2 linked regions of the Homo sapiens genome follow. The protein of the gene in region 2 interacts with the protein of the main gene of each other region in a biochemical or structural test. Each region holds a gene or a part of one and is shown on either strand. Other genes may lie near its edges. The genes, in order: OTUD5 and SLC7A11.

Region 1 (16,148 bases), on a different chromosome or scaffold from region 2:
CTAGGTTTATACCCAGATCCCATCTCTGGTGTGTTGCGGGTCTCTGTTCCTCAATCTGTGTGTATGGGGGCTATCAGACTAGATCTTTACAAATTTCTTATATCATAGAATTTTTTTTCAACTTATATAAAAGTAGAGAGAATGATGAACCCTCATGTACCCATCATCCAGCTTCAAAATAGTCAATACGTGGCCAGCCTTGTTTCATCACTATCCCGCCCACTCTTTCTCACTCCCCTGAAAGAAGAGTATTTTTAAAGCAAAACCCCGACATTGGATCATTTCATTCATAAATATTTCTGTATGTTTCTCTGACAGATACAGACTTACTCTCTTCTTTTTAACATAATCAAAATGCCATTACTGCACCTAACAGAATTAATAATGCCTTAATACCATCTGTTATCCAGTCTGAGTTAGATCTTTGAGGCCATTTTGGCTCTGAATCTGTGACCCAACAAGTAGTTGTGAGGTCCTGTGCTAGGGTGAAGGGGAAGCTGGGAATGTGACCTGATCCTCCCTGTGGTTCTCTGATATCTACCAAGGAAAAGTGCCCTCTGATAGGAGCTTTGAGCTGGGAGTCAGAAGACCTACCTTCTAGTTCTGGCCCTGACTCATAACTGCTGTGACACTTGGCCTTGGTCTTCCCGTCTGTGAAATGGTGTTGATTCTCAATGCCTCTTTGAGTTCCTTCTTGGTCTGCTATTCTCTCCGTCTGTGGGTACCCCCCATGTCTACTGGTGGGCTGGGGTGTTTTAGGCTCCATCCCTGGCTGCACAACTGATTCTTGGTATGACCTTAGGCAAGCAGCTCTTCTTTCCTGAGGCTGTTTCCTCATCTGTAAAATGGGGCTAAAAGACCCTAATGCTGTAACGATTTAATGAAGTTGCTTTGGTAAATCCCTTTAGTGCCTGACACATATAGTAGACCCTCATGGAACAGTAGCATTTGTAAAACCCAGATGCCATTTTCACTGGTGCCTCAGAGTCACATGTGTTTGTTGAAAGGGTGGAGTGAATGGTCTCCTCTCTATTCTGCCAAGCAGAAGAGGCTCAGGCAATGGGCTCTATTGGACTGGGAAAAAACTTATCCCTCCTACCCCTCTGGCTCAAGTTTGTGTTTTCCCTGGGATGTTTCCCAGAGGAAGAGCTGGGTTTCGGGGCATCTTGGACAAAAGAAAGGCAAAGAAAGAATAGGTGGGGGCCTGTTAGGTGCTAGGCCCTGTGTTGAGACCTCAGGCTAGATGTGGGGTAAGCAGGGCTTCTGGTGGAGTTAGGATTAGAGAATGCAGCGGGCATCTGAGTCTTGGGCAGTCATTGAGGGTAAGCCTTGGGACTGGCTAGTGAGGACCTGGCTTGTGTAGTAACTCATATCAAGAGCCGTGTGTGTGTGTGTGTGTGTGTGTGTGTGTGTGTGTGTATCTAGCTAGCTGTTCTCTGTGTGTGTGTGTGTGTGTGTGTGTGTGTGTGTGTGTATGTGTGTGTGTATCTAGCTAGCTGTTCTCCCCAAATACCCCCGACCCTTGGGGCTAGCTAGTGAGGACCTGGCTTGTTGTAGTAACTCGTATCAAGAGCAGTATTTGTGTGTGTGTGTGTGTCTATATGTATCTAGCTGTTCTCCCCAAATACTCCCGACCCTTCCTCCCACTGGGGCCTTCAGTAAGGGGCCTCTACTTACAGGAAGAGCTGACCAGGGCAGGTTGAAGGCCTTTCCTTATCGGCACTATGGCTACACATTTCCCCTGACTGGGCTGCCTTTGGCTTTTCTCTGTAAAACCTCAGAAGTCCTCTGGCCTCTCCCCCGAAGTACATGGCCCTTGGTCTCTAGACCTTATCTGGAGGTTTCCTTGGTGCAGAGTGCATAATACATGTGCCTGGGAAGGGGACTTTGTCCCTGGGCTTTTTGCTGCCCCCGTTTCCAGCCTCGCCTGGATGGGGACAGATGGCAGTCAGCTTAGACTGTAGTGTGAAGCCCTACAGGCTGACTTCCTGCCATGTGTTGAATAGTGGAAGGAACGTGGAGCAGAGAGTTGGAGTTGGGCGGGGGCTGCAAACATAGAGGGCACTGTTTCCTTGACCCCTGCTGTGTGCTAGGCATTCAGCTGGGTGCTTCAGGCTCACTGCAAAACTTGGATCATTATCCCATGAGACAGGTGAAAAGATTGAAGCATAGAAAGGGAAATGACATGCTCAGGGCCATTAGCCAGAGCTGGCCTGGGAACCCAGAGGTGTCCAAAGGACACGCATTCTTTTTTTTTTTTTTTTTTTTTTTTTTTTTTTTTTTTTTGAGATGGAGTCTCCCTCTGTCGCCCAGGCTGGAATGTGCAGTGGCGTGATCTCGGCTCACTGCAACCTCTGCCTCCCGGGTTCAAGTGATTCTTCTGCCTCAGCCTCCTGAGTAGCTAGGATTACAGGCGTGCACCACCACACCTGGTTAATTTTTGTGTTTTTAGCAGAGATGGGGTTTCACCATGTTGGTCAGGCTGGTCTCAAACTCCTGACTTTGTGATCCACCCGCTTTGGCCTCCCAAAGTGTTGGGATTATAGGCATGAGCCACCGCATCCGGCCAGGACACATTCTTTTTATGATCCTAGGATCCTTAGCTTCTTAGCTTGGTTGTCAACTGGCTGGATGACCTTGGCTGTGTTCCTTGACTTCTCTGGACCTTACCTCCTCCAAGTAGGAGCACGTGGCCCTCTGTTGTTGGGAGTCTTGAGGCAGGTGGCTTTCTGCCTTCTGTTCCCCTGGATTATCTTCCTATAGGGTCCTACCATTTGCTTTAGAGACTTCTGAGAATTGCCTACTCCCCAGGTAGCTGCCTGCCTGCCATTGGTTCCCCTGAGTTAAGCAATATCCATTGCTTGCGCTCAGTTCTCTCCCACCTCCTCTTATTGGGGATTCATGAGCATCATTGAAGGCTTGGGTGGAGTGGAGGTGGGAACCTGAGCCTCAGAGGTATCCTGTGGCCCACCCTGTCCCTGTTATGCTCAGATAACCTCCTCCTGGAAACATGACTCTGCATCTCTCCCTTGCTCCCTCCCTCCATGTGGCTTTGACTCAGCAGAAACCTCTAACCCTGACCAGGGTCCTGGTGCTAGCTTCTGTGGGCAGAGTGAAGGCCACATGGTTGTTTCTACATGGGCCATGGGGGAGTGGCAAGGGCTGTGCATGTTACCACGATGAGGCCCAGAAACATTAGCTAGGCCCACTCTTCTGGGCCTTTTGGTCTTGGAACATCAGCACTAGGAGGGATGGATCTGAGATCAATTTTGATTGTTTTATAAATGGGGAAACTGAGGCCTCAAGAGAAAGCCAAGACCCTACCCTATCTAGGTCATACAACCAGTGTCAGAACATTGGTATTTGAGGTTGAACCAGGCCACAGAAAGAAGATTCCCACGGGCCATTTCCTGTACACCAGCTTCCTTCAGCCTCTCCCGTGTATCCTTCAGGTTTCTCATCCTTGCAGTGGGAATCCTTGAGCAGAGGAGCACACATCTCAGGAACCAGACTATCCAGTGGGATGAGTTCTGTCTCTCCCACTGAGGGTATGCTAGTTGGGGTAGTTGGGGCTACAGACCAGGTCACACCACAGCTGCTTGACAGGCAAGTGAGACCTTTGTCCTGGCTCATCTCCTCAGGAGATTGGTTCTCAGTGGGGCCAGGGTTCCCACTGGACCAGGAGGGTAGTGGGGAGCAGACCAGGTCCCTGTCTCCCTCTGCAGCTGTGTGTACACACGTTAGTGTGGTTTGTTTTTAGGTTCCCTGTAGACACCTAGCTTCCTTTTTTGCCCTTAGCGGAACTTGCTGTGGCTCTTCTGGGAGGCAGGCAGCTACCTGGGGAGTAGGCAGTTCTCAGATGTCTCTAAAGCAAATGGTAGGACCCTATAGGAAGATAATCCAGGCTCTCATGTCTTGCTTCTTAACATAAATCTGGGTACATTATTGGTTACATTACATTAGTTACATAAGGACTTCCCCCGGGCAACAGAGGAGAGAGGTTGAGGCTAGTCTGTTAGAGCTCTTGGTTATTTCCCCTGCCCTCCACCTACCCTGCCAGAGGCCAGGAAGGAGGTTGGTGGGGTAGGGGGTCCCTCAGTTTATAGAGCCTCACATCTTCAGTCTTTCCTGAAGTGGCAAGGGCATCTACTCATTGAATGTGATAGTTCTCTGTTGTGGGATTTGTTGGGTGAGCATTTGGCCTCAGGGAGCATCTTTGGCAGTCTCTGCTGTATGTGTATACACATGTGCATTTCTATACTGGTGTCTCTGTGTGTCCAGAAAAAGGAAAGAAGTGGGGTGTGTATGGGGAGGGTAAGGTTCATATTGGCCTCTGTGGCCCTAGGGAGAGATGCAGCCCCTGATATCTATAATCTCTGCCCTCTCCCATGCCTTTCCTGGGTTCTAGCTGATTCCTGCTTGTGCTGGTGTGGAAACTGAGGCACACAAGATCAGGTCCTGCCCCAGGGAGTAAGGTGACTAAGATGGTGGCTGGATTGGGGTGAAGGTGGTAATATCAGCTGGGGCCAGCAGTTACCCTTTGAGAGCCTGGCCTCCCCTTCACTCCCCCTAAATCTGTGATCCCAGGCAAGCTTTGCCACATTTCTGTGTCTCCTGGGTAAAGTAAGAGTGTTTTGGTAAGGATAGAATGAGTTGGAGTGTGAAAAGTCTTTGGTGTGGGACCAATTGTAGTATTGTACTGAGGATTTCTGAGCCCTGTTTGAGATGGGAACAGAGGTAGAATGGTGGGGGACCCCCTTCCAGCTGGCCTCTGGGAGGGGAGAACAGGTGCAGATTGCCCACAAGTGCAGCGTCAGCAAGAGGAGGAGTTTCAGTTTCTATCAAAACAAGTTCTCTGAATTCCCCTACCTCTGCAGGTCATCCCCCCAACCTCAGACCCCTCCACAGGGAAGTCAAGCCTGGCCCCCAGCCCTGTGTGCCAGCCTTCTGGGAAGAGGAGGGCTTTCTGGAGGACAGAGGTGGAGCTAGGAAAGTCAGAAAAACGAATTCTTTTTTTTTTTTTTGAGACAGAGTTTCGCTCTTGTTGCCTAGGCTGTAGTGCAGTGGTGTGATCTTGGCTCATTGCAACCTCCACCTCCCGGGTTCAAGCGATTTTTCTGCCTCAGCCTCCCAAATAGCTGGGATTACAGGCATCCACCACCCTGCCTGGCTAATTTTTTGTATTTTTAGTAGAGATAGGGTTTCACCATGTTGGCTCGGCTGGTCTTGAACTCCTGACCTCAGGTGATCCACCTGCGTCGGCCTCCCAAATTGCTGGGATTACAGGCGTGAGCCACCACACCTGGCCAAAAATGAATTCTTGTTGAGTACTTCCTATGTGTTTAGCTCTGTGCTTAGATGCTTTTCCTGCCTTATATTATTGGAGAAATCCTTCTATTCTCCCTTGTTGGGGTAGTACTATTGCTGTTTTCCTTGGTTTGGAGATGTATATTTTCTTCCACGTTAATGATTCCAAACTTAGGGTATACCTTATAATCAGTGTGGTGTGTTTCCCCCCTCAAAAGCTGTGATTAGGTACATGTTATACCATATCACCTATCAGTGCCATCATAGGATTGAGGAGAGAAGGTGGTATTTTACATTTTACAGATAAGTAAAGAAGTGTCATAACTCGTCCATACTTTAGGACCCTGTTTTATGAAGCCTGTATTGTTAATTCGATATTAATTTAACTGCTGAAGTTTTGTTAGAACTAACGGCCTAGAGGTAGACTTGTGGACCTTTGGTTTCGCTAAAGGTAGAGAGCCAGGAGAGGACATGCATCCTAGGTCTGCATTTGGGGCTTTCCTCTGGCTGAGGAATTGCAACAGAAATGAGGAAGGGCTTCATAAGTGGTTATGGCAACATTCTGGCTGACTCGTGGGTAACTAGCATATGAAGGAATCATTGTCGTCATGACAAATTGTGTTCCTGTTTCTTGACCACCTACTGTGCCTTAGGTGCTTGGCAAACCTCCTGTGTAGTTTTGACAACACCCAGCAGATGGAAGAGGAGTTACTGTCTCCACCTTATGCATGAGGACATTTCAGCTTAGAGAGGTTAAAGGCCTTATCCATTGCTACACAGCTAGGAGGCAGCAGAGCCTTTCTGCCAGGCAAAGGGGTCAGTGGCAGAGAAATGGGACCCTCAGGGGGTTTTCCCCCAGATCCCTTCCCTGTTCCACAGTCTCCTCTCTTTCCCCATTTTCCTGCATCTGGCATCTAGCTCTTGAAGATAGAACTCCCAGGCCTGGAAATGACCGTTGACCTTTCCATAGGAGATGGGCTTTCTCCAGCACCTCAGCCTATCTCTCTGAGCCTGGCCAGCCAACCCCTATTTAACCCCTTCATTCTCATCTTTGTTCCTGTTTACTGCAGCTGCCAACAGCACTGCCTCCCAGTACCCCAAGCTCAGTCTACAGAAATAGCTCCCCAAGTAGCTCACTGTGCGGGCTCTGTGGTCCTGGCTTCTAAGAAAGGCAGCAGCAGGGGGCCCCCAGCCTGTGCGCAGGACATGTGACTTGCTGGAAATGCCGCTGGGGAGGGCGGGGGAGAGTGTGGCCGCAGAACCCACATCCTTGTTTACATTGGTGAAGGGGCTACCCCCCTTCCCGCCTTCACAACCTCCACACCCCCTTACCCTTCAGGTCTCTTCACCTCCAAGAGGACTGGAGACAAACATGGGCCCTATTTTCTATCTCAGAGTAGCCTTTCTCACAGAACACTCCAGGGTAGGAAGGGGAAGGCAGGGAAGGTGTTCTTCTGACAGTTCTTCAGAGAGGTAGACTGACAGGGAAGAACTCAGGAGTGTTCCTGTGTGACCTGACCCTAGCCCCATGCCCCAGGGAGATCCCATCAGAGCAGTGGTCCTCTGGGGAAACAAAGGGAAATTCCCAAAACCAGTGGAAATCAGACTTGCATGATCTTCAGGCCCACTTTAATTTCACAGGGAGAAGAGCTCCCTGGCTTACCCAGCCTATCCATTTGCTCAGTAAACTTTTCCTGATTTCCTTTACTGTATCGGGCCCTGAGCTGGGGGTGGACTTTGGTGTGAACTGCCCTTTGCCTTCTGTGGGAGCCCAGTGTGGTCGGGCAGAAGTCTATGCACACCTTTGATAAATCTGGTGATAGAGGTGTCCTGGGTAGTGGGGAACTGTATTAAAGAACATGTTGGGCCAGGCGCGGTGGCTCACACCTGTAATCCAGGCACTTTGGGAGTCTGAGGCGAGAGGATCGCTTGAGCCCAGGAGGTCAAGGCTGCAGTGAACTATGATCGCGCCACTGCACTCCAGCCTGGGCGACAGAGCGAGACCTTGTCTCAAATAAATAAATAAATAAAGAACACATTGGTGTTTGAGAAGTAGGCAGCTGACGAGGATGGAAGGAGCGTCCTGAAGAGAAGGAACGGCATGTGTGAAGATCCTCAAGCGAAGCAGAGGGAGTGTGTTTCCTTCTCGCCTTAGTTTGACCAAATCTCACGACGCCTGGACTATTCGGGCCACAGGCTGCCCATCCTGAGTTAAGCTAAAGTTAGTTGCATGTGTGTCTTATCTCTTTTACTAGACTGTGTGCTCCCCGAAGGTAGGGGCAGGATTTTACTCACCTCTGTCACCTTCACAGTACCCCACATTCAGGCCTCCCTACGGAGGAAGGAATTCTGATTTACTCTGTGGCTACTCTGTCCCAAGCCCAGTGGTAGTTATTTTATACCCGTTATCTCATTTAATCCCCACAAAAGGCCTGCCATTTGGTTATCCCTTTTTTTTTTTTTTTTTTTTTTTGAGACAGAGTCTTACTCTGTCGCCCAGGCTGGAGTGCAGTGGCATGATCTCGGCTCACTGCAACCTCTGCCTCCTGGGTTCAAGCGATTCTCCTGCTTCAGCCTCCCAAGTAGCTGGGATTATAGGCGCCCGCCACCATGCCCGGCTAATTTTTGTATTTTTGGTAGAGACGGGGTTTTACCACGTTGGCCAGGCTGGTCTCGAACTCGTGACCTCAAGTGATCTGCCCACCTTGGCCTCCCAAAGTGCTGGGATAACAGGTGTGAGCCTCCACGCCTGGCCTGTTATCCCTCTTTTTCCCATTTTACAGATGAGGTATATGAGGCTCAGAACACTTGGGTCACTTGCCTCTGGTCACTCAACTCTCTAGTATCTGGCAGAACTGGGCTTGGAGCCCATTTTTTTTTCTTTCCTTTTTTTGTCTTTGTTCCCTTTTTTTTCAGCCTACAAAGGCCATGTTGACTTGTAGGAGTCAGGAAAACTGAATTCAGAGTTGACTCTGTCACAGACTGACTCTTTGTGACCTTGGACAAACCACAAACTCCCCCTGAACCTCAGTTTCCTCATGTGGAAAGCAAAGGGGGTGTGGGAATCAATAGCATTTGAGGCCAACCTGTGGAACTTAGAATGTTGTTGATTTCTCTGAGTGGCCACGTGTACCCTAGACAAAGTCATCTGCCCAAGAGGCCTGTGGATGTGTTCCTCTCACCTGCACTCTCTTGTTCTTCAAGTCTGGCCCTGCCTGCCATATTTTTCCATGACCCCGTTCTAGCCTACAAGGGCAAGAACTCTCCAGGCCTTGGGGTAGAAAAGGGAATTTCCCTGGTCCCCCAGTTCCTCCTCCCCAAAGGATGTTCTATGATTCAGAGCTCTTCTCTGGCATCTCTGACCCTAGCTGCTGCTTTCTTCTGCCCCCACAGCTGACCAGGTGTATGGAGACCAGGACATGCATGAGGTTGTGCGAAAGCATTGCATGGACTATCTGGTGAGAAAATGGAGGCCTTTGGGGAAGGGGCAGGGTGGGAGGATTTCTTCTCCACACAGACCTTAACCTTCCAATCTATTCTGCAGATGAAGAATGCCGACTACTTCTCCAACTATGTCACAGAGGACTTTACCACCTACATTAACAGGAAGCGGAAAAACAATTGCCATGGCAACCACATTGAGATGCAGGCCATGGCAGAGATGTACAACCGTCCTGTGGAGGTGTACCAGTACAGCACAGGTACTTCTGCAGTGGGTAGGTGAGGGAAAGATGGTGCCTCATTCGAGCCTGCCCAACCTGGCCTGCTGTGGATGCTCCCTCCTTCTCTTTCTCTGCAGAACCCATCAACACATTCCATGGGATACATCAAAACGAGGACGAACCCATTCGTGTTAGCTACCATCGGAATATCCACTATAATTCAGTGGTGAATCCTAACAAGGCCACCATTGGTGTGGGGCTGGGCCTGCCATCATTCAAACCAGGGGTGAGTGGGTCCCTGTGCCCAGAATGGCTGCTGGATATAGAGGTCAGAAACCTCTGTTGGAGTCTGTTTTGCCCCTAACTCACAAAAATATCCTGTCTCCTCTCTCCCCTGAGGTCTCACCCTTACAAAAAAAAAAAAAAAAATAGGGAGTTACTTAAGGTGATCTCTCAGGGCTTGTTCTTTGGTCTTGGTTTGCCTGTCTGAGTTGGCTTACCTATCTTTTGTGCCCGTTGAGGGCTGGCATTTTAGGATGTGGAGTCCTATTTTGGAGCAGTGAGCCAGGGCTTGCTCTGGGCATCTTGGCATGGATCTTTCTCCTGGGATCATAGTGGTTACAGACAGCCATGGTCACAGAGACATGGGGTACAGGCCTGGCCCCACCACTCACTGGCTGTGTGATCTAGGCAGATTCTGTAAGTATTCCAGGCTGGCAGCTTGGCTGATACAGAAAGCACCTCCCACTGGGCCTGGGGCCTAGTAGGTGTTCAGAAGGTGGCAGTGCATTTTCCCAGCACATACCGATAGATTCTCATTCATTTCTCTCTCTCTCTCTTACAGTCATTTGCTGAGGATTTTGGTATCTTCTATTCAGGTTTCACTTCTACAAACACAAAGTACTCCTGCTTCATTTTCGGAAACACATAGCCTAACACCAACACACCCTCCAACATAGGGTTCTTTTTTGTTTTGTTTTTAAATAAACTTAATTTTAGAGCAGGTTTAGATTTACAGAATTACTGCAAAGAGGCTGGGCACGGTGGCCCACACCTGTAATCCCAGCATTTTGGGAAGCCGAGGCTGGCAGATCACCTGAGGTCAGGGGTTCAAGACCAGCCTGGCTAACATGGTGAAACCCTGTCTCTACTAAAAATACAAAAATTAGCTGGGTGTGGCAGTGGGTGCCTGTAATCCCAACTACTCTTGGGAGGCTGAGGCAGGAGAATCACTTGAAACTGGGAGGCAGAGGTTGCAGTGAGCCAAGATTGTGCCACTGCACTCCAGCTTGGGCGACAGAATGAGACTCTGTCTCAAAAAAAAAAAAAAAAAGTTACAAATATATTACAGAGTTCCCATATGCCTCGCTATGATTAATGTATTAACATAGTACATTTGTCATAGTTAATGAGCCAATATCGACATATTATTAACTAAAGACCATACTTGACTCAGATTACCTTAGTTTTTCCCTAATGACCTTTATCTGTTCCAGGATCCCATCCAGGGTGCCATATTATATTTAGTTGTTGTGTCCCCTTTATCTCCTCTTGGCTGTGACAGTTTCTCAGAATTTTCTTGTTTTTTGTATTCGATCTGTTTACTGACTCTCGTTTTGCCTTTTCTAGAATGTCATATAATTGGAAATGTACAGTATGTAGCTTTTTCAGACTGGCTTTTTTCACTTAACACTATGCATTTAAGATTCATCTGTGACTTGTCCTGGTTTAATGGCTCATTTTCTTTTTTGGTGGGCGGGTGGAGAGACAGGGTCTCACTCTCTCACCCAGGCTGGAGTGCAGTGGGGCAATCTAGGCTCACTGTAGCTAGCCTCCACTTCCCTGGCTCAAGCAAGCCTCTCACCTCAGCCTCCCGAGTAGCTGGGAGACTACAGGTGCTCGCCACCATGCCCGGCCAGTGTTTTAAAAAAACTTTTTGTAAAAAAATGAAAAAAAATTTTTTTTTTTTGTAGAGACAAGGTCTCACTATATTGCCGAGGCTGACCTTGAACTCTTGGGCTCAAGTGATCCTTGTGCCTCGGCCTCCCAAAGTGCTGGAATTACAGGCATGAGCCACTGCACCCAGCTTCCTCTTTTTCTTTCTTCAAAAATATGAATGTTCTGGCCAGGTGCGGTGGCTCACGCCTGTAATCCCAACACTGGGAGGCTGAGATGGGAGGATCTCCTGAGGTCAGGAGTTCGAGACCAGCCTGGCCAACATGATGAAACCCTGTTTCTACTAAAAATACAAAAAAAAATTAGCCGGGTGTGGTGGCACACACCTGTAATCCGAGCTACTTGGGAGGCCGAGGCAGGAGAATCACTTGAACCTAGGAGGCAGAGGTTGCAGTGAGCTGAGATTTGACCCCTGCACTGCAGCCTGGGTGACGGAGCGAGACTCTGTCTGAAAGAAAAAATAAAAATGAATGTTTTAAGTTTTTGTATTTAATAGACTTAATTGTTTAGAGCAGTTTTAGATTTACAGAACAATTGAGGAGATAATACAGAATTCCCACATATCCTTCTCTTCCCAAACACAGTTCTGCTATTATTATTATTATTATTATTATTATTATTATTATTATTATCATCTTTTTTTTGAGACGAAGTTTCTCTCTCATCACCCAGGCTGGAGTGCAATGGCGCAATCTTGGCTCACTGCAACCTCTGCCTCCCGGGTTCAAGCAATTCTCTTGCCTCAGCCTCCCGAGTAGCTGGGATTACAGGCACCCGCCACCACGCCCAGCTAATTTTTGTGTTTTTAGTAGAGACGGGGTTTCACCATGTCAAAGGCTGGTCTCGAACTCCTGACCTCAGGTGATCCACCCATCTCGGCCTCCCAAAATGCTGGGATTACAGGCGTGAGCCAACGCGCCCAGCCCAGTTCTGCTGTTATTAACAGTTCAAATCATTATGGTACATTTGTTACAATGTGCGAACCAACATTAATACTTTTTTTTTTTTTTTTTTTAAGGCAGAGTTTCTCTCTGTTACCCAGGCTGGAGTGCAATGAGGCGATCTCGGCTCACTGCAGCCTCCGCCTTCTGGGTTCAAGCGATTTTTCTGCCTCAGCCTCCCAAGTAGCTGGGATTACAGGTGCCCACCACCACACCTGGCTAATTTTTCTATTTTTAGTAGAGACGGGGTTTCACCATGTTGGCCACGCTGGTCTCAAACTCCTGACCTCAGGTGATCCACCCGCCTCGGCCTCCCAAAGTGCTGGGATTACAGGCGTGAGCCACCATGCCCAGCCTAATACGTTACTATTAAATGAAATCTGCATGCCTCCTTAGGCCCCTTTATCTTTGATAGTTTCTCAGTTTTGTTTTGATGACCTTGACAGTTTTAAGGAGTACTGATCAAATATTTTGTAGGAAATGTCTCTTTTGGACTTTTTCTCATGTTTAAACTAGGGTTGTGGGTCTTAGGGAGGAAGATCACAGAGGTAAAGTGCCATTGTCATTACATCATTTCAAGGGTTTATACTATGAGTGTCATTTATGCCTGTTGGTGTTACCCTTGATCAACTGGCAGAAGTAGTGTTTGTTAGGTTTCTCCACCTAAGGTTACTCTTTCCCACCTTTTCCATACTGTACTGTGTGGAAGGAAGTCACTATGTGCAGCCCACGCCTAAGAAATGGTTATGCCCCATCCCCTTGAGGGTAGAGTATCTACATAGATTATTTGGAAATCTTTAAGGAGGATCTGTGTCTCATCCTTAACTCATCCTTAATTTATTAATTTTTCCAGTTATTACGTACATCAATATGGTCTTTTTTTTTTTTTTGAGAGGGAGTTTCGCTCTTGTTGCCCAGGCTGGAGTGTAAGGGCGCCATCTCAGCTCACTGCAACCTCTGCCTCCCAGGTTCAAGCGATTCTCCTGCCTCAGCCTCCCGAGTAGCTGGGATTACAGGCATGCGCCACCACACCCAGCTGTTTTTTGTATTGTTTAGTAGAGATGGGGTTTCACCATGTTGGGCAGGCTGAAGTCTCGAACTCCTGACCTCAGGTGATCCACCCTCCTCGGTCTCCCAAAGTGCAGGGATTACAGGTGTGAGCTACTGCGCCCAGCTCAATCAGCCATTTCTTTAGAGAGCCCTGGCATGTATTGGAGACTGTTAACAGAAATCAAGACCTAGGTGTTGAATGTGCTCTTCGATATCAGGTTGTCCATGCTTCTAGGCCCTGTCAGCTGATAGAGCAAGGAGCTACATGTATGTATAGTGGCCTTTGTACACATATCTATAAATATTTCTACCTGTAACCATCTGTATTTATATTAAACATGAATCCTTACTGATGTCTCCAACTCAGATCCATTATCACATGCTTCATTCTAGCCTTCTCCCCTTGTTCATCTGCAAATTCCCTCTCCAACAGTAGATACGCCATCAGATGTATATGCACTGGTTCCTACCATCCATTTATGTAACTGCTCATTTCCATATACACGCGTAGCAGAATCACACTTGTTCACCCGTACCCCCGTGGGAAACAACTTTATCACTATAGCTCAATGCTACATATAGTTCTTTTTTGCCTTTGGTGTTACAGACTCCATTCATTTTGAAAGTGACCTACTTGTACCCCCACCCCCTTCAAATGAGGGTGTTTATTTTTATTTTATTTTATTATTATTATTTTTTGAGACAGAGTCTCGCTCTGTCGCCCAGGCTGGAGTGCAGTGGCGTGATCTCGGCTCACAGCAAGCTCCACCTCCCAGGTTCACACCATTCTCCTGCCTCAGCCTCCCGAGAAGCTGGTACTACAGGTGCCTGCCACCACACCTGGCTAATTTTTTGTATTTTTAGTAAGAGACGGGGTTTCACCGTCTTAGCCAGGATGGTCTCAATCTCCTGACCTCGTGATCCGCCCGCCTCGGCCTCCCAAAGTGCTGGGATTACAGGCGTGAGCCACCGCGCCCGGCCAAGGTTGTTTCATGTTTGTAATACATTTGTATTATTTTGTCACATTTTTGCATTCTATGCTGGGATCTCAGATCTCCTAATTTTTTATTTATTTATTTTTGAGACAGAGTCTCACTGTCGCCCAGGCTGGAGTGCAGTGGTGCGATGATCTCAACTCACCGCAGCCTCTACCTCCTGGGTTCAAGCAATTCTCGTGCCTCAGCCTCCCGAGTAGCTGGAATTACAGGCATGCACTACCACACCTGGCTAATTTTTGTATTTTTAGTAGAGACGGGGTTTCATCATGTTGCCCAGGCTGGTCTCGAACTCCTGACTTCAGGTGATCTGCCTGCCTCGGCCTCCCAAAGTGCTGGGATTACAGGCATGAGCCACCGCGCTGGCCATAGATCTCCTAATTTTTATTTTATTTTATTTTATTTATTTATTTATTTTTTGAGACAGAGTCTTGCTCTGTCACCCAGGCTGGAGTACAGTGGTGCGATCTCGGCTCACTGCAACCTCAGCCTCCGTGGTTCAAGTGATTCTCTTGCCTCTGCCTCCCGAGTAGCTGGGATTACAGGCACGCGCCACCACGCCCAGCTAATTTTTTTGATTTTTAGTAGAGACAGGTTTCACCATATTGGCCAGGCTGGTCTCGAACTCCTGACCTCAGGAGATCCACCCACCTTGGCCTCCCAAAGTGCTGGAATTACAGGCATGAGCCACCGTGCCCAGCCTTCCTAATTTTTTTTTAAATAGCATATATTAAGGTCCACTCTTTGTGTTGTACATTCTATGGGTTTTGACAAATGTGTAATGTTATGTATCTACTATTACAGTATTATTCAGAATAGTTTGACCACCCTTAAAATTCCTCATACTCCATATGCTTACCCCTCCCTTCCTCCCTCTTCCTGCAAACACTATTGTCTTTGTGGGTTGCCTTTTTCAGAATGTCATATAATTGTAATCATACAGTATGTAGCCTTTTCATACTGTTTTTTTTTTTTTTTTTTGAGACAGTGTATCACTGTTGCCCAGGCTGGAGTGCAGTGGCACAATATCACTGCAGCCTTTACCTCCTGGGTTTAAGCAATCCTCCCACCTCAGCCTCCCAAGTAGCTGGGACCACAGGCACACACCACCATGCCTGGCTAACTTTAAAAATATTTTTATTTTGTAGAGACAGGATCTCACTGTGTTGCTCAGGCCAATCTCAAATTCCTGGGGACAAGTGATCCTCCCGCCTTGGCCTCTCAAAGTGCTGGTATTGCAGGGGTGAGCCACCTGCAGCCAATTTGCTTTTTTCCCCCCTGAAATTAAAATGGTCAATGTGACAGACTGCTTCTTTTCACTTAGCAGTATGCATTAAGGTTTCTCCATGTTCTTTCATGGCTTGTTAGCTGGTTTCTTTCTTATCACTTAATGTTCCTTTTATGGAGGTACCAGTTTAATTATTCACCTATTAAAAGACATTCTTGGTTGCTTCCAGTTTTTGATGATTATGAATAAAGCTTCTGTAATGTGCATGCAGGTTTTTTTGTGGACGTAATTTTTTAGATCAGTTGTATACATACCTGGGAGCAAGATTGCTGGATTGCGTTGTAAGATTATGTTTTGATTTATGAGGAACTGAGAAACTGTCTTCCCAAGTGGCTGTATTATTTGCATGCCCACCATAATGATTTGGAAGTTCCTGTTGTCAGCATTACCAGCAATTGATACTGTCATTGTGTTGGATTTTAGCCATTCTCTTAGGTGTGTAGTGGTATCTCATTATTTTAACTTGCAGTTGCCTATTGGCAAATGCTGTTGAGCATCTTTTCATATGCTTATTTGCCATCTGTATAGCTTCTTTGGTGAATTGTGTTTGTGACTTCCTGACATACAATTCCTAAAATCCTTAGAATCTGCAAAGTGTTGCCTTTTTGTATGCTAATGAGGTGACTGATGGCTGGCAGCCTCTAGGTAGCTTCAGGATGGGGGCTGGTGACCTGAAAGACCAAGGCAGGATTAGAGGTTTGCAACTTTAAGCCCATCCCCCAGCCTTTGGGGAGGGGAGAGAGGCTGAAGATTAGGTTGATCACTAGTGTCCAATGGCATAATCAATAATGCCTGCATAATGAAGCTTCCAAAGAATCCCAAAAGGATTGGGTTCTGGGAGCTTTTGGGTAGCTGAATACATGGAAGTTTCTAGAGGGTGGCACCCCAGGGAGGGCATGGAAGCTCCACGTCCCTTCCCCCATATCTCACTCTGTGCATCTCATCTGTA
Region 2 (15,972 bases):
GTTTTTCATTTTCTTCTTTTCCTAGACACCCTCCCATCTTCCCCAAACAAAACTGTTTATCCTATTCTCCATCATTTATACAATTTTTTATGTATAATTTAAAATCTGATTATGTCATTTTAGTGCTTTCAAAATATGTTCAGGATATGCAAAAAGCCTTCACATTGCATTCAAGGCTCCATCTGGTCTAAGCTCTCCCTACTTCTTCAGTTAGCTTCTTCCCACTAGAAGGATATGAATCTTCTCTGCCTGCAGCCTCTGCAACTAATTGACTATGTTTTATACTTCAGATCTTAGTTCAATTTTCCTTTCCCAGGGGAAAACTTCTCCAACCTATGACTGGGCCAGATCTCTTGGAGTATATTCATACTGAAGCCCTTGGCCTGTCTTCCACAGTGCTTATCACAATAGCAATTTTATATTTACCTATGTGATTTCTCGATTGATAATGATTTCCTCCCACTTGACTCTGAGCTCTAAGGGTACAAAATCATATCTATCTTAATCACAGTTTTACCTCCAGTGTTTAGAACAGTGTCTATCATATAGTGGAAACCCAATATATATTGAATATATAGTGCACACGCAAATTCGGTTTAATGACCCCTGCTGTGTACAGATAGATAATATTTCTGTCCTTGAAATCTGTGTTTTACAGATTATTTCTGGCAATACTAACTTAATCTAAAGGTATAATTTTAATGGGAAGTACTTAGGAACTATGGGTATTAGTAAAAGAAGAGAAATATTTACATACTTAGATATTTTGTCCCTCCTCATGTCATTTGTTATTCTGCCTATTTAAAAGGCCAACTCAGCAATATGAGTATGTTATGACAAAGAGATATATGAACATATTTTAAAAGCTTCTAGAATACAAAGGTACTTTCCTCTGTCAACAGACACACACACACAGAGAAAAGTAGTTTTTTTTTTTAAATTAAAGTAACATTTGATTATCCGCTACCTGGGAGCAGAAATTGTGGCTGATTTCATTTTAGATCTCTTTTTATTGCCATTTACCATTCAGTAGCAGTTTGTGGAATAAATAAATTAATATATGAATATTTTATCTGTGCTACTGTAAGATATAAGCTATATTTATATGGAATGATCATGTTCATCATAATGCTAAGCAATGAGCCAAAGTTACACAACTAATACATGGCTGAAGACGGAGTCAAGTCCAACTGTATTAAGCTCCAAAGCCCGCCAGCCTGACAGGCCAGCAGTCAATAAGTAGTACATGCATTTGAATGCTGAGTATGTTGTACACAATATATTGTAACTTTAAACTTTCAATTACTTATTCAAAAATAATTTAATATATGCCAAAAAAAGGGCACTGACCTAAGTAGTATATGGGTTACAAAAAGATCTTATCTTTGTATGCTTGAAATGTTGGCAGTTTTAAAAGGGAAACAAAATATAGACACCTAAAATATTAAGGAAGAATAGAAGGTATCATGCTCAATGCCAAATGTGAAGCAGAGATAGAATTTTCAGAAGAATTTAGAGATGAAAGAAATAACATAAATTAGAATAAACAGGAAATTAATTGTGGGAAAGAAAGGATTTAAGATGACCTTTGAAGAGCAGATAAGATTGAGATAACCAAAAGGAATAGAAGTGCATTCCTGATAGAGGAATTTCAGGAAAGGAAAAAAATACTTATTATTATTTCATTATAACAATTTTAAATAATGCAGAGTGTTTAAAATGAAAAAGCCTTCATGAAGCATATACTACTTTGAAGATCTTTTTTTGGTTAAAAAAAAAAAGACTTCTAACACTGTAAAACTCATGATTAGTGTTGTCAATACTTACTAGCACTGTATTTGGCACTTAGCCATAAAAGCTCACATGAACTCTCAATCACATATGTTTGATAAGTTTGATAAGAGCAAGTTTCCCTAGTAATATCCATTAAATTCTGTAATCAGACTGTGCACATCACATTTTATCAAAGTAGTTAGCCTTAAGGAACTGTGATACTCTGAAATGCTCATATGACATCATAAGCTTCCCACAAAGTCGAAGGAAATTTGCTATTCAGAGTGACTTAGCACTATTCAGTGTGATTTTAAACCAAGACAAGCAGGAATGTAAACACATTGTTACAACAATAAAATCAAAAAAGACTTTTGGAACTGTAGTTCCTAATCTGTTTAATATAAGGAAATGAGTCATTTGACTCTGTCATGCAAACTCTGTTTTTTATGAAGTATAAGACTTGGTGACCAACTAAGTTGTGAGGCACAGAAGTGTCTTGGTCACAATGACTAAGTAAAGTTAAATGCCTTAATGATATAATCTACAATAAGAGAAAACTTCAATATTTAATTTGGTCTAGTTGGTCAAAAGGTATCCAGGTGAATTTTCATGTTCATATTCTTTCAAGTAAGCATCTTTCTCCTGGAAGTGTCAAAGAGAATAGCTGAGGGTCAAAGAAAGGTAGATATTTCTAAAAGTTTGGCATTGCTGGTGAACTGCTTGTCAGTGATAAAATTGCATTAAAAATATCTTAATTCAGAAAGGTACTTTATCACAGGCTTTATATCCTGAGGTAGACATGTTTATCATGTAGTCACATGACATGCATGTGTCTAACCAGTTAAAAATAATCAAGGTGATTCATAAGAATGAATTGGTTTATTTTTTCTTAATTCTTTCTACTATGCTCTTACCGTATTATGAGGAGTTCCACCCAGACTCGTACAAAAGCTGGTAATGGACCAAAGACTTCCAAAATATATGTGTAATGACCTCCAGATTTCTTTATAGTTGTTCCCAATTCAGCATAAGACAAAGCTCCTGTGAAATATTTGTCACAAAATGGTACCAATTTAATACATTTTCAAGACACCCAGCATTAGAATAGATACAATAATGTTTATATGTTGCCTGAGATGTAACTGCCTCCTTTGGTCTGAATGGCATCCTTACTCAAGACAAATAACCATCATCTAATTGCTAAGACCCGCCAAGTTCCTTTTCTAACATCCTCACAGTTGAGATTTAGTGTATTCTATTTGAACACTATAATTTTACTTGAAATGACAAAGATACATGTCTGCAACAATATCATGTGTTCCAGAATTTTGAGCTGAAAACCTGGAAATAGGGGAAAAAGAGGAGAGAGATGTCAATAATATTGACCTATTTTTAGAAGAACACAACCTCACACCAAGACAAGGCATTAGTCCAAATGTTTGAGTTAGCTTTTAAGTTTTTTGAGTTATTTTTTGAGAACCCTTTTAATAAATTATGTTTCTGTGGAAAATCAAAATGAACAAGCTGTATCCACTCTTTAGAAAACCATGGACTCTCTGACTTGCAAGATTTCTTTTTTTTTTTTTTTTTTTTGAGACGGAGTCTCACTCTGTCGCCCAAGCTGGAGTGCAGTGGCGCGATCTCGGCTCACTGCAAGCTCTGCCTCCTGGGTTCACACCATTCTCCTGCCTCAGCCTCCCGAGAAGCTGGGACTACAGGCGCCCGCCACCACGCCTGGCTAATTTTTTTTGTATTTTTAGTAGAGACGGGGTTTCATGGTGTTAGCCAGGATGGTCTCAATCTCCTGACCTCATGATCTGCCCGCCTTGGTCTCCCAAAGTTCTGGGATTACAGGTGTGAGCCACTGTGCACGGCCAAGATTTCATTTAATTTGTAGGATATATTTTGTCAACAAAATGAATTCTGACTCTGTTTCTATAAAAGGCTATCTTGGATGTTTTTTGAAGTGTACTCTCTGGGTGTTTTTTTTTGTTTGTTTTTTGTTTTTTTGAGATGGAATTTTTGGTCACCCAGGCTGGAGTGCAATGGCGCTGTCAGCTCATTGCAACCTCTGCCTCCTAGGTTCAAGCAATTCTCCTGCCTCAGGGTCCCGAATAGCTGGGATTACAGGTGGCTGCCACCACATCTGGCTAATTTTCATATTTTTAGTAGAGACAGGGTTTCACCATGTTGGCCAAGCTGGTCTTGAACTCCAGACCTCAGAAGATCCATCCACCTCGGCCTCCCAAAGTGCTGGGATTACAAGTGTGAGCCACTGCGCCTAGCCAGAATATATATATATATATATATATATATATATATATATATTTTTTTTTTTTTTTTTTTTTTTTTTTTTTTGAGATGGAGTCTCACTCTGTCCCCCCAGGCTGCAGTGCAGTGGCACGATCTCTGCTCACTGCAACCTCTGTCTCCAGGGTTCAAGTGATTCTCCTGCCTCAGCCTCTCAAGTAGTTGGGATTAGAGGTGCCTGCCAGCACGCCTGGCTAATTTTTTGTATTTTTAGTAGAGACAGGGTTTCTCAATTTTGGTCGGGCTGGTCTCAAACTCCCGACCTCAGGTGATCTGCTTGCCTTGGCCTCCCAAAGTGTTGGGATTACAGGCGTGAGCCACTGCGCCCGGCCCAGAATATACTTTTTAAAATGAGGTGCTATAATTTATATTTGTGTACTTTAGATCAAATTAACTATAAGCTAAATTTTTAACATTTAACGATACAATTCACATAAAATTGGACAAATATGCAACTCCCCAAAACCTCAGTTTCACTCTCTGTGAAATGGAGATCTCAGCTTCTACCTCATAAAGGAGTTGTGTGTATAAATGTGGCAGCGGGTACCTAGTACAGTACATGGCCTGACACATGGCAAGCACCACATGAAATATAGCTATACTTATTAATTTGAGTAATTAACAAGAAAATTTAAAAAAATCCTGTCATTATGTGAAAAGTTCTATCTGTACTGCCAAGTGCTCAAATGTAAGAACACAATTTTTTTCCAATCTACTTCTGAGAATAAAAGTGTAGAAAAGTACTACTGATTAGTAATAATTTAGACAGAACTGCTCAATATAAATATAATTTGGATATTCAGTGAAATCTTAGTGTTACATATTTTATATCTGATTTCTAAACTTATCATGACATCAAAGTCACCTAGGAATAATTTTTTTTTTTTTTTAATTTTTGAGATAGGGTATCACTCTGGCACCTAGGCTGGAGTGCAGTGGCACAATCTTGCCTCACTGCAGCCTCTGCCTCCTGAGCTCAAGTGATCCTTCCACGTCAGCCTCCCAAGTAGCTGGGACCACAGGTACACACCACCATGCCCAGCTAAATTTTTGTGTATTTTTTGTAGAGGCAGGGTTTTGCCATGTTGCCCAGGCTGGTCTGGAACTCCTGGGCTCAAGGGGTCTGTCTGCCTCAGCCTCCCAATGTGCTGAGATTATAGGCATGAGCCACCATGCTCAGTCTGGGAATAATTTTTAATTCGAAAACACTCAAACCAAAAACAGACTCTAATCAAGAGAGTATAGATTGTCCACAAGAGAAATTCAAGAATCTCTATCATTTTAAAATTTGTACAAATAATTCTAAAGTAACGAGTCTGCAGACTAATATTTGGGGAACACTGATGTATTTCATCTACCTATAACTAATTTTAACTAGTTGCAACTCACTCTCCATGGGGAAACATTCGCCATGTTGGTAGGCTGTCCAGAAAAGGATCCAATATAAAATGTTATTGGGAAGAGTCTTAAGTACCTCAGAATTTATTGTCAGAGAATCAATACCTAGACCTCTATATGCTTTACTGAAACTCCAGGATGGTTGCCCTAGGTTTAAACTGAGTTCTGGGGGAATGATTTTCATTTAAAGGTCTCAAGCTTCATAACCATTTTGCCCAGATGAAAAAAGTTCAAAACAAGATGTAAAAATCCATGTATTGACCCTTCACTTAAAAAAAAAGTATATATATGTATTAAACCAAATGTACAGATTCTTTACAGTTGGTCCCAAAGTTCTAGAGTCTTTTTAAAAAGAAGGATTATTTTTTCTTCAGATTTTGCTTTGCTTGCTGTTACAGAGGCACTCCTGTCCAAAAGCTTCTGGTAACTTAAGTGACAAATGCAATGCAAATAAAGATAAGTAGATTAATACAAGAGCACACTCCCTGCAATTACTAATCAAAGAATACCAACTCAAGTGTAATGTTAGCTAGTCTCCTTAGCTGTTTCTCTCTTTTTATTTTTTTTTGAGCTTTTGCTTCAGATGATATGTAATACTTATGCATAAGCATATTTTCATAGTGCAAGTCAACACACTTTAACTAGTTCAATACTCATACTGATCTATTTTATTACATCTGAATAATCTTTTATTATGTGCAAAAATTGAATCACATAGTGGAAGCTGCATGCACATAAGTACGCAAAGTCCAGTAAACTGGTTGTGGTTTTTCTGATTAGATATTGATTTATTCTGAATATATAAAGTGCTGTAGGAAGATTTAAAGGCTGAGGGTGCACAAAATCATTTAAGATGATCAACAATTAGGTTTCTCTTTTTCTATAAGTGCATATACCAGAGCTATTTTAATATTAATAGTGGCTAAGGGTACTATTAGAGTTTTTCATAATGATATTACTCCAAATTATTTTATAAAGATGGGAAGTAATACTGGGAAATAATGATACACAATTGTTACTGAATATTTAATAAAGCACAAGTTAGTTATAAATAATACCACAAACTCTCTCTAAAAACCCCAAATAATTCCTCTATAAATCTTTCTATACTACTTGTTTTAACAAGTTCTATTTAAAATAACTTCTTCCTAAAAATGGAATTTGAGGACCGGGCGCGGTGGCTCATATCTGTAATCCCAGCACTTTGGGAGACTGAGGTGGGTGGATCACGAGGTCAGGAGATCGAGACCATCCTGGCTAACATGGTGAAACCCCATCTCTACTAAAAAATACGAAAAATAAGCCCAACGTGGTGGCACACACCTGTAGTCCCAGCTACTCGGGAGGCTTAGGCAGGAGAATTGCTTGAACTTGGGAGGCGGAGGTTGCAGTGAGCCGAGATCACACCACTGCACTCCAGCCTGGGCAAAGAGCGAGTCTCTGTCTCAAAAAAAAAAAAAAAATGGAATTTGAGTTCTCTAGATGAGTGTCAAACCAATGATTTAAAACATCACAAGGCCTGAGTAGAAAGAATGAATTGATTGGTACACATGGGAACAGGAGTTAGTACTTGTTAATTAGTCCTAGAGTTAGCGTTAGTACTTGTTAGTTAGTGTTAGTCCCAGAGTTAAGACAAAGAGCAACTTTAAAGTACAGAATCTTTCCCAAGAAGAGTAAATAAATCCTCATAGCATAAATCAAATTTAATGTTTGACAGTTCACCAGTTTTTATCATCTTTACAACAAACTCAGGTAGCTCTCTAGTAATTTGCCTACTCCATAAGGGGGCATTTATTTACCTCTTTACTATTAATTCTCAGATCAATAGAAGAGACATAAACTTTGAAGAAAAATTCATAATTATACTTCTGCCAGTTCCCTTCAGATTAATTTAGTGAACAGGTGGACAAATTCTCTGTGTCCCTGGAGAACAAGTGAAATATAATGAAAAAAACAGATCTGGGCAAGTACAGAAAACTAACGCCCAACTGAAGTTTTAAAACTTATATTGCAAAAGTGTATGGGTATTGAGAAGAGATGAAAGGTTGAAAAGTAATTTGAAATATGCTCAGGCCATTGCAATATACCCCATTATGATAGGGATTGAGTTATGCGCCATCATACATCTCTCCCATGTCAAGGACTTTTGAAAGGATATTAAGAGGTGACAAGCACATGAACTTAAAAAATATTTTTATAAAGACTGCCACCCATTTGTTTGGCTAATAAAAAGTCAGTAAGACTTCTGCTGAACACTCCGTTCTATGTCTAAATAGCCCATGCCAGGTTCCACTTCACAGGTGTCTCATTCAGCATGCCAGCTGCCAGAATGCCCAAGCTAAGTGTACAACTGCCCGGCACAGAAAGTGTGCATGTTTTTTACTGGGTCATGAAAGTTAGCCTTTGCTCTCATCACCACAGAGAAAAGTCAGAAGATAGCCTGTCTTAGTCAGGAAAAGAAAGTACAGCCTGTAGGAAGCAATTTGAGGGTGTTCCAGATCACACCAACAGCGGATGCTGCATCTGGGTAGTTCACGTACCCGAACAAAAATTTTAAAAATTTGGTGTGGCCTTTGCCATCCATTCACTCCTCAAAAACTACCATTTGCTTTCCCAGAAAGCAAGCTTTCCAGCCCCACAGCCACGCCCCCACGAGAGAAAAAGTCGCACTCACCAAATAGTGACAGGACCCCACACACCGTCCAGATGGTCAGAGACATGCCCACGCTGCCCGTGTTCTGGAGCACGCCCTTAGGAGAGATGAAGATTCCTGCTCCAATGATGGTGCCAATGATAATGGAGACTCCCCTCAGTAAAGTGACTTTCCTCTTCAGCTGCACTTTCTCCTGCCCAGGTGGCTCCTTGTTGCCCAGGGAAGGCAGCCTCCCGTTAACATTTCCCTGCAGGTAACCTCCTTTGGAGATGGTGGACACAACAGGCTTTCTGACCATAGTAGGGACACACGGGGGAAAAATAAAACAGAGGGAAAGAAAACAAAACTTTCAACTTTGGTGTCTCTTGGTGTTACTGATCGATGTCTTCCTCTGCTTTCAGACTGTCTCTCTCAGCGCTATAGTGTTCACAGGTGAAAACTCAAAGGTGTGCTTTTTCCTTCACAGCGATCTAATTACTACTCAGAAACACCTGTGTATGCATCGTGCTCTCAATTCTCCACCTCCTCGTTCCACCACTGCTGCTGCTGCTGCTGCTGCCGCCCTATCATTACAAACCAGCTCAGCTTCCTCATGGGCTTGTATTTAAGCGCCTGCCTGTCACACCAACTTACTACAGCTAAATGATGATGCAAATTCTCCAGGTTTGCATCAGCCACATGAGAAGCCTCCAGCATTACTCAGCTCTTTTTTTTAAAAAAAGAAAAAAACAGGAGGAGCTTGTTGCTCAACTGACCTAAGCTTTTTAGAGAACAAAGCACACACTTTAAAGAGATTTTAGCCAATCCAGAAGTAGTAAATTCGGAACAGACCTTCCCAGAGATTTAAAGCAACTCGTAGTGAGCAACAAAAGCTGTTCAAACAAAATGAAACAGGAAATAGTTACTTCATTTTAAGGAGTTTCTTTTTCTTTAATGCGTGTATAAAAACATTTTACATGCGACTGTTTTGTGAGTAGAATGTATCCTAAAGCTACATTGTTTATAACAACACAGTTTGAATTTCATAATTTGTGTAATGCTTTTTATTTTTTTATTTTGAGTTTTTTATAAGGCAATACAGTCAAATCCAATATTTACAAAATTAAAGATTCTACACTTTATACTTCTGTCACATACACACAACTATAAGCCTTCCTCAACATTAAAAGATAAAATTATTTCTTACTACTCATAATAAACCAGTATTTTAAATCACCATCCGAGTGTGACTAATACAAAATTCACCATGACTCCAGAAAATAGTCATTTTCTGATTCTCATTAGCACTAGGTGATTTTTTTGAACTATGTAAAAGATACATATCCTTCATTGTCATGTTGTTCCTTTGAATTACCAAAAAAAATTTCTAAGTTCAAAATTACACAATTACAATTACATAAAAATATGTATATAGCAAAAGCCTGTAAAGGAAAACAGAATGGTAGTTATAGAAAGTAATGATATTATGTATGACTTTTTTCCACATTATATAAACTATTGTTATTATTATAAATTTAAAATGCATTAAAAATGTAAGCTAAATTAAAATATTTACTTTGCAATAGTCAAAAAGGCAAAACATTTTTAAACCCTTCTAACTTTCTCAACCAAGTGTCAAGAAAAAACAAATATGAAAAGAAAAGAAATCCTAGATATCATTTTTGGCTATAGTTACATGTGGTTTTGGATTCAGTGAGAAGAATTGAATGTTATCATTACCCTGAAGCTACCTTTATACGCACCATTAAATAAGCTTCTGAACCTTTGAACAAAAACCACAAACAAAAAGCCTGTGTGCGAGAGGTTGGCAGGGAAAGAAGGGAGTCAAGTATGGTGAGGATGATCAAAGAAAGAAATGAGAAATCGCCATTAGGAAAGTAGCATGGAAAAGGTCAGAACCATTTTCTGTTATGTTGACACCTGAGAAAATGACACCACCTCAATGCTTTGCCATCCAAATAATTGAGGCTACATTTTCTCCTTTTTAAATTATCTATCTAAATTCTATATAATTGGTTTCAGCTACACCAAGTTAAAGTTTTTATAAAACCAAAATAAATACTTTTTCTCAGTTGTTAATGTCTTTCAAAAAACAAAAATGGATCATTTTCCTCATGCAATCCTGCTAAAACTCCCAAAGAAGGAAGCTAAATAGAGATTCTTTTCTTTCCAATTCTCTTCCTCCTCCTACATCTCCTTTCACTCACACAATTTTCCTGATTAATGGACCTAAGGAGCAGCTCTTCTTTCCCAGTAAGAGAAACATATTAGCTCTGAAGAAATATGAGGTAAAAGTAGGACACTAGGAATCTCAGGGAACAGCAACTTTCTCTAATTAACACAGTGTCACACTTTAATTTTAAATTTTGTTATAAATAACTGAACTCATAAGTTGAGCCAAAGACCCCACTCAGATAGGAAACTGAATGAATTATAAAGGACGATTATTCTTTCAATATTAAATAACATTTTCCTCCTCACAGTATTTTTTTTTTAATTATGAAGAAAAATGGCTGATGTTAGACTAAAAACCAAAAGGATTGTACTTTCATGTAAGATAGAGGCCACCACTCAGAATGTTTGCAAAGCTGCACATTGCTGCTAAGGGCACCAGTGTACCTCTTCTAAGCACCCCAAAATCTGTAGAAAATGCAGTTTATAAAGAAAATGTTGAATTGCCTTGAACTCTTAAAATTGCCAGTTCTAAGCTTGTAAACTAAGAGTTTGGATGGTCCTCAAATACTTGTGTATCATAAAAATGTGTTCAAAGCAAATGAATACATATTTTTCATCCTGTATTAGGCCTTATTTTAAGTATAGCTGTCAAATTATGAGACTATCCTAGTGCTATTCGCAAATACTTATTTACTGCTTATTGTGCACAAGAAATAGTCCTAGCTTCCTCACAGCATCTCGTAATAGAAATAGAAATAATGTATACTGGTAGCTACCGTTTTCTAGTAACAATTTCTGTCCCATGGTTATAAATACAGGCATATCATCTAGGCCTGGCCAAAAATAATCCAGTGCTCTGGCTGCAGAGTATTGGAATATTACCTGAGCTGGGATATTTCTAAACAGAATTAGAATCAGCTTTTTTCATCTGTTGTTGGAGATTGTAAAGATGTGATCTGACAACAACTGGTGGCCATGTTCCCTGGCGTGTTGCAAATATCCTCACAGAATAACAGAGAATGTGCAGAAATTAGAGATATTCAGAAAGTCCTAGTACTATCATGCCCTATGTTAGTTCCTAAGGGACCCAGATTGGCTCGGGATCCTGAAGACCTTCATTTGCTTCTGTAAGCTACCTAGTTTCCTTGCTAGGTATGCTACCTAATAACACACACAAAAGTCAATTGCACGTGGATCATGGAGCTAAATTTGAATGGTGCATCATGAACGCTTCTAGAAATGGGTCACCTGATATGATAATAATTAGTTACATGTGGTTATCAGCCCTTGAAATATGACTAGAACTTGAAGTCTTAAAGAAAAATAACAAAAAAGTTATTAACAATTTGTATTATTCATACTAGTTTTACCTATTTTATTTATTATTATGGCTACTAAAAATTAAAATCATATCCGTGGTTCAAAGTTGTGGCTTCCATTATAATTCTACTGGACGGTGCTGATCTAGAGGAAAATGCAGAATATATTTCTAAACTTTGTGTAAGCAGGGATTTCTTAAAAGGGACACACAAAGCCCTAATACAAAAAAGAGAAAAATACAGTGTAATACATTAAAATTAAGATTTTGAGTTTATTGAAATATATTATTTGATTATAAAAGTGAATCTTAAAATGGGACAAAATATTTGCAATTTGCAAAGGTCTCATATCCAGAATAAATAATAAGTTTGTATAAATAGGAAAATGACAGACAACCCAATAAAAAATGGCCAAGAAATTTGAACAGATGCTCAATAAAATAGTCAATTCATTTGTAAAAAACTGCTCAACAGTATTAGCTATTGGGGCAATTAAAACCGAAACCACAATAAGCCATCAATTCCCACTGAGAATGGCTCACATGAGACAGACTGGCAATACCAGGAGTACTGACAGCATGGAGCAACCAGAATTCTTACACTGCTGGTGGGGGGACACAAATTGGTGCATCCATTATGGAAAGCTGTTTGGTGTTATCTTTTAAAGTTAAACAGACACATACCCTTTGAACAAAAAAAACCCACTCCTGGGAATATGCCCAGTAAAAATGCAGGGCATCTATATGCCAAAAAGCTTGGATGAGAACATTCCTAGTACCTTTATTCATTTGAAAATAACCCAAATGTCCATTAACAGTACAACGGATATATGTATCATTGTATTTATTTAGTGAAATACTGCAATGCAATAAAAAAAAGGACGAACAATAGTGATATAAAAAAACAATATGGGTGACTCTCACATAATGTTAGAAGACAGAATTAAAAAGCATATACTGCATGGTTCAATTTATATAAAGTTTAAAAACAAGTGAAATGATTCTATAGTCTGAGAACTCTCTGGTTATCTTTGGAGATAAGCATTTCTAGTGATTGCGAGGGGGAACAAAAACAGTTCTAGAGTCCTGGTATTGTACTATTTTATAACCTGGGTAGTAATTACCTGAATATTTTAACTTTCTGACAATTCACTGAGATTTACATTTATTTTATTTTATTATTTTTGTTTTGAAACGGAGTCTCACTCACTCTGTTGCCCAGGCTGGAGTGCAGTGGTATAATCTCGGTTCACTGCAACCTCTGCCTGGTGGGTTCAAGTGATTCTCCTGCCTCAGACTCCTGGGTAGCTGGGATTACAGGCATGTGCCACCATGCCCAGCTAATTTTTGTATTTTTAGTAGAGATGAGATTTTGTTATGTTGGTCAGGCTGGTTTTGAACTCCTGACATCAACTGATCCACCCGCCACGGCCTCCCAAAGTGCTGGGATTATAGGCATGAGCCACTGCGCCTGGCCTACATTTATATTGTTATACCTTTCTGTATTTATGCCATAACTCAATTATAAAAAAAAAGCACAATAGTTGAAAATTTGTGATATTCTTTCAGAAACAGATTGCTCAAGCAGACAAATAAGCAAAACTGTAGAAAATTTGGAGAGCATAATTAATCAACTCAATAGAGTTACTTTATAGAGAATTTCCCATCCACCAAATAAAAAATAAAGATTATTTTCAAGCATATATGAAACATTAACAAAACTATCCGTATCGAAGACAAAAATGAAACCCCAGTAAGTTCCAAAGAATCAACATTGTGTAAACTATACACTCTTACTATAAACATGCAACAAAATTAGAAATTAATAGTTATAAAACTAATAAAATAAATCTTATATGTCTGGAAATTAAAAATCATACTACCAGCTGCGTGCAGTAGCTCATGCCTATAATCCCAGCATGAGGCTGAGGCAGGAGAATCGCTTGAGCCTGGGAGGCAGAGGTTATAGTGAGCTGAGATTGTGACACAGGGGGACTCTGTCTCAAAAAAAAAAAAAAAAAAAACATACTACCAACTTATCTTTAAATTAGAAAATAGGCCCTGAGAAAAAATTCACAAAATACTTAAAACTGAATAACAATGAAAACCATATGTTCAAATTTGTTAGAGTAGATTAAAGAAAACTTAAAGGAAAACTTAAAGCTTCAAGATACATTCATCAGAAAATAAAAGAGGAAATGAGCTCAATATTCAACAGAAAAATTTAAGTAAAAACAATATAGTCAAAGAAGAAAAAAAGATAACTACAGAAATAAAAAAATTAAGAACAAAAGGGGAATAGAAAACATTCCCAATTGGAAAATCTAATTATTTAGAAAGAATAATAATTTAGATACAGGTTTGGCAAATGTAAGCAATAAAAAATTCGGAAATATATTAAATGTGAGTTTAAAAAAAGAGAAAATATCTTAGAGAGCTAAAGAGAATTTTTAAATAATAAAGGAGTACAGTGATCTACTATATGGAAAATAATGTGAAACTCAGAATAAAATGGACACATTTCTGGAAAATGAATCGATTCTATTACGTCATTAGAAAAAACAGAAAAACTGAATGGAATGGCAACTATTTATGGTGCTAATCAAGGATATCCCTGGCTCAAAAAAATAAAACCAAACAAAACTAGGTTCTACTTGTGTTACAGGTAAGGCCTACCACATTTTTATGAAATAAATAATCTCCTCCTTAGAGAAATTATTTCAGAAAGTGAAAACAGGAGGAAAAACTGCCAGACTCATTTTTGTGAGTTTAGTGCAGACATTGGCCTACTTCCTGTAAAAGGCCAAGTAGTAAATATTTTAGACTTTAAGGCTACCCATTGTCTCTGTCCATGTTCTGTGTATCTGTGTGTTTGTGTGTGTGTGTGTGTGTGTGTGTTACAGCCCTTTAAAAATATAAACATTTTTCTTAGCTCCTGTGTAGTTCGCCAACTCTTTGTTTAGCAATATCTTAACTGCAAATAAGGCATTACAAGGTCAGTGCAATGGGCTAATGACAGGAAGTTTTATAAATAAAGTTTTATTAGAACATAGCCATGCCCACTCATTTATATATTTTCTATGGCTGCTTTCATATTACAACAGTAGAGTTGAGTAACTGCAAAAGAGACTGAATGGCCTGCCAAATAAGAAATGTTTATAATTTGCCTCTTTACAGAAAAAGTTCGCTGACTCTGGCTTAAGAGAAGATACAGGAATTGACTATTTATTTCCACTTTGATGTTCTCTCTTACTAGTAACTCTCTTTGCATATTCAGTGCTTGCTATTCCTACAAGATAGGAGTTAAAACAAAAAAACTGTGAAGCAAAAACTATTATGAAGAGAGTCATTGTACAGATAAAATATCTTTATGCATCTAAGAACACAGCACAAAATATGTGAAGCACATACAATAAAATAACAAAGAAAATTTGATAAGCAAATGTTGAAAATTCAACACACTTCTCTCAATATTAAATCAATAGGAAAAAAATATTATCAATTGTAGGTGATAGTTGATGTTCTATAGAGATTTTCTCATATCACTTTTCTTATTTCTGGGTATTTGTTCCTTAGCTTCTGTTTTTGCTTAAAAAGGCATACCTGCGACTCTCCTCAGAGGACGGCGCTTAGATTAACGGAGCCACTTTTCCCATGGGGGCAGAGAGTAGGGATGCCTGGGAGTTTACATCCCTTATGGAATGTTAACAGATGTTAACCGATCACTCCTTGATTTGAGAATATGACAGTCCAACATACTTGCCTTTAGTTGAGACAATCTCCGGAGTTATTTTCCCAAGCTGCAGGATCAGGCTAGGCGTTTACCTGAAATTTTAGCTTTCTTTGTCTTTCCCGTCCGTGTTCTGCTTCCTGCACTCCCTCCACAGTATTCATAGAAGCATTTCCTTATTTTGTGGTATTTTTTTTTTTTAGAGAACTTGAATTAAGACAGTTGATATTGAACGTAGTCTAGAGTGCAGACTCAAAAAAATCTGTAGTTTACTGACTCACCTGCCAAATGGCAGTAACGAGCCCAACTCAAGTGACCAGCAGAGTATGGATAGCTGCTGTCAGGCTGCTGTATTGCAGTTACTAAGACTTTCACCTGGGATGAACTGGGATAGGGTACAGTTGAATAGGGATGAACTGCTTTGTGCATCCTCTAGTATTTGGGAATATTACAGTACTCTTCTTAATCTTAGAGATAAGATAAAGAAATATATTGTCACCTCTATCATTTATCATTTTCTATGCATTAACTGCTAGAATTAGACAAGAAAAGGCATGAAGAAGGAAAAAAAGAGCACAAAAACTCATTATTTTATGATTAATTACCTGGAAAAAA

What was found.
Region 1: of the proteins of SLC7A11 (region 2) and OTUD5, one has a biochemical effect on the other in vitro, tested with the Homo sapiens proteins (one study listed by BioGRID).

What each region holds. Positions count from the first base shown.
Region 1 is NC_000023.11:48,927,571-48,943,718, reverse strand, and holds part of OTUD5 (OTU domain-containing protein 5), read left to right. Parts: intron 1-7,367; exon of another isoform or gene 7,368-7,528; intron 7,529-8,700; coding exon 8,701-8,765; intron 8,766-8,851; coding exon 8,852-9,008; coding exon of another isoform or gene 9,009-9,023; intron 9,024-9,106; coding exon 9,107-9,255; intron 9,256-16,148. UniProt on the Homo sapiens protein: Deubiquitinating enzyme that functions as a negative regulator of the innate immune system. Has peptidase activity towards 'Lys-48'- and 'Lys-63'-linked polyubiquitin chains. Can also cleave 'Lys-11'-linked ubiquitin chains (in vitro).
Region 2 is NC_000004.12:138,233,638-138,249,609, forward strand, and holds the start of SLC7A11 (cystine/glutamate transporter), read right to left. Parts: upstream 8,713-15,972; 5' UTR 8,433-8,712; coding exon 8,156-8,432; intron 2,815-8,155; coding exon 2,688-2,814; intron 1-2,687. UniProt on the Homo sapiens protein: Heterodimer with SLC3A2, that functions as an antiporter by mediating the exchange of extracellular anionic L-cystine and intracellular L-glutamate across the cellular plasma membrane.